Homo sapiens: one gene and its partner. The protein of the gene in region 2 purifies or fractionates together with the protein of the main gene of each other region. This does not show direct contact. Each region holds a gene or a part of one and is shown on either strand. Other genes may lie near its edges. The genes, in order: GOLGA1 and SVIP.

The links.
Region 1: the proteins of SVIP (region 2) and GOLGA1 fractionate together in Homo sapiens (co-fractionation; one study listed by BioGRID). This does not show direct contact.

Annotation. Positions count from the first base shown.
Region 1 is NC_000009.12:124,917,073-124,920,900, forward strand, and holds part of GOLGA1 (golgin subfamily A member 1), read right to left. Parts: intron 1-3,828. UniProt on the Homo sapiens protein: Involved in vesicular trafficking at the Golgi apparatus level. Involved in endosome-to-Golgi trafficking. Mechanistically, captures transport vesicles arriving from endosomes via the protein TBC1D23.
Region 2 is NC_000011.10:22,823,229-22,827,056, forward strand, and holds part of SVIP (small VCP/p97-interacting protein), read right to left. Parts: intron 1-3,828. UniProt on the Homo sapiens protein: Negative regulator of the ER-associated degradation pathway (ERAD) of misfolded proteins. It competes with AMFR/gp78 for binding VCP/p97, and inhibits AMFR/gp78-VCP/p97 complex formation that is required for degradation of ERAD substrates.

The DNA of each region.
Region 1 (3,828 bases), on a different chromosome or scaffold from region 2:
TGATTTATATAACATTAACAAGCATGGGAAACTAAAGAAGATAGTTTAGGGATAAAACTGACAACATTAGAAAGCAAAGTAGACAATGAAGCAATCTCCAAATAGTACTTACTTCCAAAGGAAAAAGGAATGGGATGGAATAGTGAAGGGCACAGAGGGAACCTCAAAGATAAACACATTGTTCTTTTTCTTAACCTGAGGGATAGCTCAGAGGGCTCATTGCCTTATTATACTTTCTATCATACTCATATTTTATAAATATGTTTTTATATATACTCAATAAAGACAAGAAAAAAACAAATTCCAAATTTACAATCTTCACACAATACCAGCCCTTCTTTTGCCCAAGCCAGAAGCCCATAAATCACCCATAAAAATACAGACTTTTCTCTTCCTGTCCTCCCATATCTATTACATTAGTAAGTCTGTCAATCTCTTCAATAGTTCTTACATTTGTCTACCCATTATTATCTTCACCACCACACTTGTCAAAGCCTCCATCATCTTACGGTCGAACAACTGCAAAAGCTTCCTAAGTGGAAGACCCTCTCAGTCTCCTAACGGCCAGAGTAATCTGTTATTCTCTCTTATTCTGTATGTCACTGGCTTTCTTCTAGTTCCTTGAATGTGCTAATCCTTTTATTTGCCTCAGAGTTTTTGTTCATGCTGTTCCCTGCTTGAAATTCTCTCCCATCATCCCTTTCTCTCCAGCCTGAGCACTGTATCGAGTGTTACTTCCTTAAGTGTTCTACGGCTCCAACTGGATCTGATCTGATATATATATATATTTTTTTTTTGAGACGGAGTTTCGCTCTTTTTGCCCAGGCTGGAGTGCAATGGTGCAATCTCGGCTCACTGCAACCTCCACCTCCTGGGTTCAAGCGATTCTCCTGCCTCAGCCTCCCAAGTAGCTGGGATTACAGGTGTGTGCCACCATGCCCAGCTAATTTTGTATTTTTAGTAGAGACAGGGTTTCTCCATGTTGGTCAAGCTGGTCTCGAACTCCCAACCTCAGGTGATCCACCTGCCTCGGCCTCCCAAAGTGCTGGGACTGCAGGCGTAAGCCACCAAGCCCAGCCCTGATCTGATATCTTTTAATAGGATCTCACTAAATCTCGTAGTTTTCTTTCAGAACACTCATCACGGTTAGTAATTATATATGTGATTACTGATTAATGTCTGACTTCCCTTCTAGACTATAAGCACCACAAAGGCAAGAACTGTATCTATTTTGCTCACCATAATATTATGAACACCCAGCACAGAGCCCAGCACATAGTAAAGCTCAACTAATATTTTTAGAATGAATGAAGAAACTTACTGTGACCAAAGTCTGGACTTCCCTGAGCCCCATTTTTCCAATTATAAAAACAACAGATGGTTCTAATTGACATCAAAGGGTCCCTTGACTATCAAAGTTGTGGCCAGGTGCCTGTAATCCCAGCACTTTGAGGGCCGAGGTGGGCAGATCACTTGATGCCAGGAGTTCAAGACCAGCCTGGCCAACATGGTGAAATCCTGTCTCTACTAAAAATACAAAAATTAGCCCGGTTGGTGCCTGTAGTCCCTGCTATTCAGGAGGCTGAGGTGGGAGGATTGCTTGAGCCTAGGAGGTGGAGGTTGCAGTGAGCCAAGATCACGCCATTGCACTCCAGCCTAGGTGACAAAGTGAGACCCTGTCTCAGAAAAAAACAAAATAATACAAAAACCAAAGTTGTGTATCTATTTTCCCCCTTCTTCCATGACCCCAAATGTACTCTCTGACCTTCTGCCTTTTCTGCCTCCTGCTGTCCTCCTGATCCTTGACATTCCAGTTCCTCTAGGAAGATTTCCTTGACTCCTGGGCTGGAATGTACTTCCCCTATGGTATATCTTTTGTATTTGAAAAATCTAGGGCTGAGTGTGGTGGTTCACCTCTGTAATCCCAGCACTTTGGGAGGCTGAGGCGGGTGGATTGCTTGAGCCCAGGAGTTCGAGACCAGCCTGGGCAACATAGCGAAACCCCATCTCTACAGATAATAATAATAAAAAAAAATTAGCCTGTTGTAGTGGCATGTGTCTGTAGTCCCAGCTATTTGGGAGGCTGAGGTGGAAGGATCACTTCAGCCTGGGAGGCTGAGGCTGCAGTGAGCCGTTGACGTCACTGCACTCCAGCCTGGGTGAAAGAGCAAGACCGTGTCTCAAAAAAAAGAAAAAAAAGAAAAGAAAAAAGAAAAACCTAGTTCACTTACTTGAGACTTCTTGTTTGAGCATTTCTTTTCTTGTGATTACAGTAGGTTTGAGTTCTATAATGAAACTGTAAGCCTCTGAAGGAAAACAATGTCTGTATTGAGATTTTTAGTTCATTGAGGGTAAAAAGCCTGTATCACAGTCATTCATTCACGTATATATTTACTGGGTGCTCCTTATTGTGAGGCAGCAAAGTGCAGTAGAATAAGCATGAGTTCTGGAGTAAGACTTGGGTTAGAATCCAACTCTGTCACTTACGGTTATAACTGTGAACAAGGTCAATAACCTCTTAGTTTCCACTTAGGTATCTGTAAGTATGATAATACTTAGCTAAGACCTCTATTGACAAAATCTTACTGTACTGTAATTATGTTGTAAGGCTCTGTCTCACTTGAGATCAGCAATTCTGAAAGATGAGGGTAGGGTGGATGGCACTGCCGAATAGGGGGTGGTTCTGTGATGTGAGGGGAAGGGCTGGATGTCAATGACTGAAGGATGCTATTGGCATTCAGAACCCAGAGGCCAGGAATGCTAAATGTCGCGCAATGCAATGGACAATCATACAATACGAGTTGTTCTGCTCAAAATGCCAATAATAAATTATGTCATTGGGAAATACTACTTTATTTTATTTATATTTATTTATTTATTTATTTATTTTATTATTTTTTTAAGACAGAGTCTCTCTCTGTCACCCAGGCAGGCTGCAGCGCAGTGGCACAATCTCAGCTCACTTGCAACCTCCACCTCCCAGGTTTAACCGAATCTCCTGCCTCAGCCTCCCAAGTACTGGAATTACAGGTGCACGCCACCACACCCAGCCTTATTTTTATTTTTAAAGATAGTCTTGCTCTATTGCCTGGGCTACAGTGCTGTGATATGGTCATGGCCCACTGCAGCCTTGAATTCCTGGGCTTAAGCGATTCTCCCACCATAGCCTCCCAAACAGCTGGAACTACAGGTGCACACCACCACAACTGGCTAATTTTTTTTTTTTTTTTTGGTAGAGATGGGGTCAAGAGGAGGACCTCATGTGATCCTCCTGCCTTGGCCTACCAAAGTGCTAGGACTACAGGCTTGAGTCACTGTGCTGGGCCTGAGAAACACTACTTTATATTCAAAAATATTATCATTCATCTTTATATTCTCAGAGTGTAGCACAGCCCTAATGTAGAAACAAATGTATGTCAATGAAATGAAAAAACAAATTGTAATGACATCATTTGATTACGTGCCATAAAACAAACTGGATTAGAGCCAAGTATGTCAAAGGTACAGCCCTGGTCATGTCAGCCACTATTGTATTTTTCATGCTCAAGGTCCATTATGTGCTTAAAGACATATTTGAGTCAGGCCAGGCACGGTGGCTCACGCCTGTAATCTCAGCACTTTGGGAGGCCGAGGTTGGTGGATCACGAGGTCAGGAGTTTGAGACCAGCCTGGCCAACATGGTAAAACCCTGTCTCTACTAAAAATACAAAAATTAGCCGGGTGTGGTGGCGGGCGCCTATAATACCTGGGCGACAAGAGCAAGACTCTGTCCCAAAAAAAAAGAAAAAAAAAAAAAAAAGAGAGACATATTTGAGTCGACCAAATGGT
Region 2 (3,828 bases):
CATAGAAATACAAAATGATTTTTCTGAATAGCAGCTATTCATAAAATTTTACATTATAGTCCAAAGCCTGAAATAAGATGATAGTTTAAAAGCATAAAGAAGACAAAATATCTGGTCAGATTGGTGGGTAGTTGCAGGATAGCTCTGTCTCACTGTCTTGCCTGTAGTTTTCAAGAGTAACTGTAGAATGTGCTGGGAATGTAACATCCTGGGATAGCAAATGAATGGCCAAGGACAGCTCAAGTTCTGTTCCAGTCCCTCCCTAAAGACAGGACGTCCTTCAATGCTTTAGCCCAAGGAGTCATGTAGTACCTCCCCTTCTAACCCCCAGGTCATAAAACCCAGGGCACTCATCTGAGGTTCAAGTGGGGCACACACAGATGTCATCAACCCCAGGCAGTTTTCCTTGGGAGACAAGCTTATAATGAATCCTAGGCTTCTGTTGTCCCTTGTTGCCAATCTGTAAGTAATAAACTCACTCCACGTTAAATGTTTTTGGTTTTGTTTTGGGATTTTCTTGAGACAGGGTCTCACTCTATCGCCCAGGCTGGGGTGAGGTGGGAATGGCTCACTGCAGCCTTAACCTCGCAGGCTCAAGTCATTCTCCCACCTCAGCCTCCCGAAAAGCTAGGACCACAGGCACATGCCACCACACCTAATTTATTTTTTATTTTTGTAGAGACAGGGTCTCGCTATGTTGCCCAGGCTGGTCTCTTAACTCCTGACCTCAAGTGATCATCCCATCTTCTCAGCCTCCCAAAGCCTTCCTCTCACAGCTGAGATTACACGTGTGAGTGACTGTGCTCAGCCTCTTCATGCAAATGTTACATGCATGAGTATTCTGTCCACTGGACTCTGAAGTTGGTAACCACTGCACAGTGAACCTGCTATTCAGTAGCAAGAGCCTAAATATCCAATAATCAGTAAAGGAACACAAAATAAAACACAACAAAACAAAAATTTAAAAATTCTTGTTTGAGCCAGGGAGTCAAGAAATGGCAGAAACCATTAAAAAATGGTTTGGCAAGGTCTTTTCCTTCTTGAGTTAAGAAAATATTCCATTTGCCCCTTTGTTTAATGAAGTCTATTAAATCTGTGATAGGTCCTGAAGAGCCATTAGGATAGAACCAGAGATATTTGGCAATCTCTTGATAGTGTTTTCCAAGTACATCCAAGGAATATTATTGGGTGTTTTATATATATATATACACACACACATATATATATATATACACATATATATACGTATATATATATGTATATATATACGTATATATATACACACATATATATATAAAATCTATGTTTAAATAAATTTTCAACATTAAAGATTAATCCAAGTAAACTTGCTTTTCTTCATTGTACAATTTCTTAGAGGCCATAATTCTGTGCCTTTTTTAGTCTCTAAGAAGGGGATATAGTCTACAATATACAATTTAGCATTTTTAAACATTTATTCCCATGGGACTCTATCTTCCAAAACATCTCTCTTAGGACAAGTGTTATAAACGCTAGGATAGTGATTCTCAATCTGGGTTCACATTAGATTACCTTGGGAAGCTTAAAACAGTCCTGATGGCTAAACCCTACTCTCAGAGACTGACTGGTGTGAGGTGGAGCCCAATGAACAATCCTTTTTGAAAGCTGCCTATGAAACTCCAACATGCAGCTAAGGTGGAAAGCCATTGTACTAGAGGTCTACCCTTACTCCCGTGCTGCTATATCCTGTACTGATAGTACTTTGCATCCTGATGCCATCATCACATTGACTTCTTCAGGTAAGAAGTCAGAAGACAGCATTACCCATGCTAATTACCCTGGAAAGATGCAGCACTGGTCAGGAGATGAATAGGTGAAAGGCATGAAGACAGGGAATGCAAACTAGACTCATACTCTAGGTAGAGTCAGGTCAGAAAGACTCTACCTAGGGAAGAGTCTTCCTAACCTTCCTACCTTAGGAAGACTCTACCAATACTTCAGGCCAGCCCATGAAACAAGCCAGACAGCAGCCATTAAAGGACCATAGGCCAAGCGTTTTGAGGGTTAAGTACTTCTGCCTTGTATTTTTCCCTTCTGTTATCCCTGAGCCTTCCAGAATTTTTTCACTTCATGCTCTTGACATGTTGTGCATGTGTCAAGCAGAATGGAGCATGCCACTTGAAGCTAGTGTGGTAGTGGTAGGTGATGAGGAATATTCCAAGGAAAAATTACTCACAGTGGACAACAGCAGTGGCTAATGACAGTGAGCCACTGGAGAAAATCCTCCTGCCACTATATAGTTTCAAGGTCCTGAAGGTCATTTTTACTAAGTGAGTTTGAGAGATTTCTTACAAGAACAGTACACAAAGAAAAACAGAAACTAAATTTAACTTTGGGTATGTTTTACATTTTGAGCACTTTTGAATGGATTGTAAGTAATATAAGGCCTAAATTTTTTTTTTAATCTATAGACTTCAGAGTGTGGAAGCTTCAAGTTTAAGAAAGCCTCTTTCTTTATTATACTTTAAAAGCTGATGTTAATTTCATTAGGTTAGAACTTGTGAAGTGTCTTCTTAATTATGATTAAGTGTTGATTAAATTATCCTTTTCCTATAACATTACGTATGACTTTAACTTAATACCTTCACCACTTCTACTGTGAAATAGTGGATCTCATTATTTCCAGTCCTACAATTTAACTTTTGTAATTTTGTGTTTGTTTTTGACAACCCTATATGAAGTAAACCTAGTGAAACAGCACTTTATCTCAACAGAATATTGAGATATGATAAAGAATTGACCTCGTTATCACCCAACTGTTTTACTTTACACTAGACCTATTCTGTTCTATTATGGAATTATAAAAAACATAAGCAAAATGGTCAGACTTATTTACCTTATATTGAAACTAATTATATATTGCTAAAAGTTCACCATAAAAAAACTTCATAAATTTTCATTCGTTAAATGATATAAGATGAAGTAACGTACAATAGTAAAATACACAGACACACATTCTTATTTCTGTGATATTCTTGAGCCAGAATCAACTGCTCAGGGTGTTCATAAACTGCCTGCCCCACAAGTTACGAGAGTATCTACATGTAGGCAAGTGTATGTGTATATGTCCATGTATATGTATGTGCATGTGTGTGTGTGTGTAGTTTTGAGAGAAAAAAAACCAATAAATCTGTTGAAAGGTACTCATAAATCATTGACAAGTTAAATATAAATGACTGAAATTAAAGACATTGTCCTTTTCACAAATATACTACTATTTACTTTAAAAATGGACCAAGAATAAATTCTTAATATCTGAGCCATTATTTTCCTGAGCTTTAAGGGATTTTAAAAATAAATCCTTTAAAGTCCTGCTAGAGTGTAAAGACTCCAGCATTCAGAGACTCTGCTTAACTTGTCCACCATTATATTCCCAGTGTCTAGCTCTGGGATCCATATCTAGGGAGGTATGTGTATGATACCCACACCTGTATACATTCTGTAATCCAAATTAACATTTACATAACTATAATAAACAGGGGCAATGGAAAGATCAAAGATTCCAAATCAATGCGTAAAAGAGCTCAGGCCATAAAACAGAACTTATAGCGTAATCCAATTTAATAAGATATATAAATGAAGGTTAGAAATTATGTCTGTCAAAATGGTACTTAGTTTGGATGACTTTTACACTTCTTTATACTTCTCCATATTGCTTGAATTTTTGAATTATTTAAGATTAGTAGTAAGCATAAGAGTATTAAAATATATATAGTGTTAAAATAATAAATCTATTATTTCATTTTGGGGAAAAAAGCTAATTGATTCCAATAAATGTTAAAATAAATT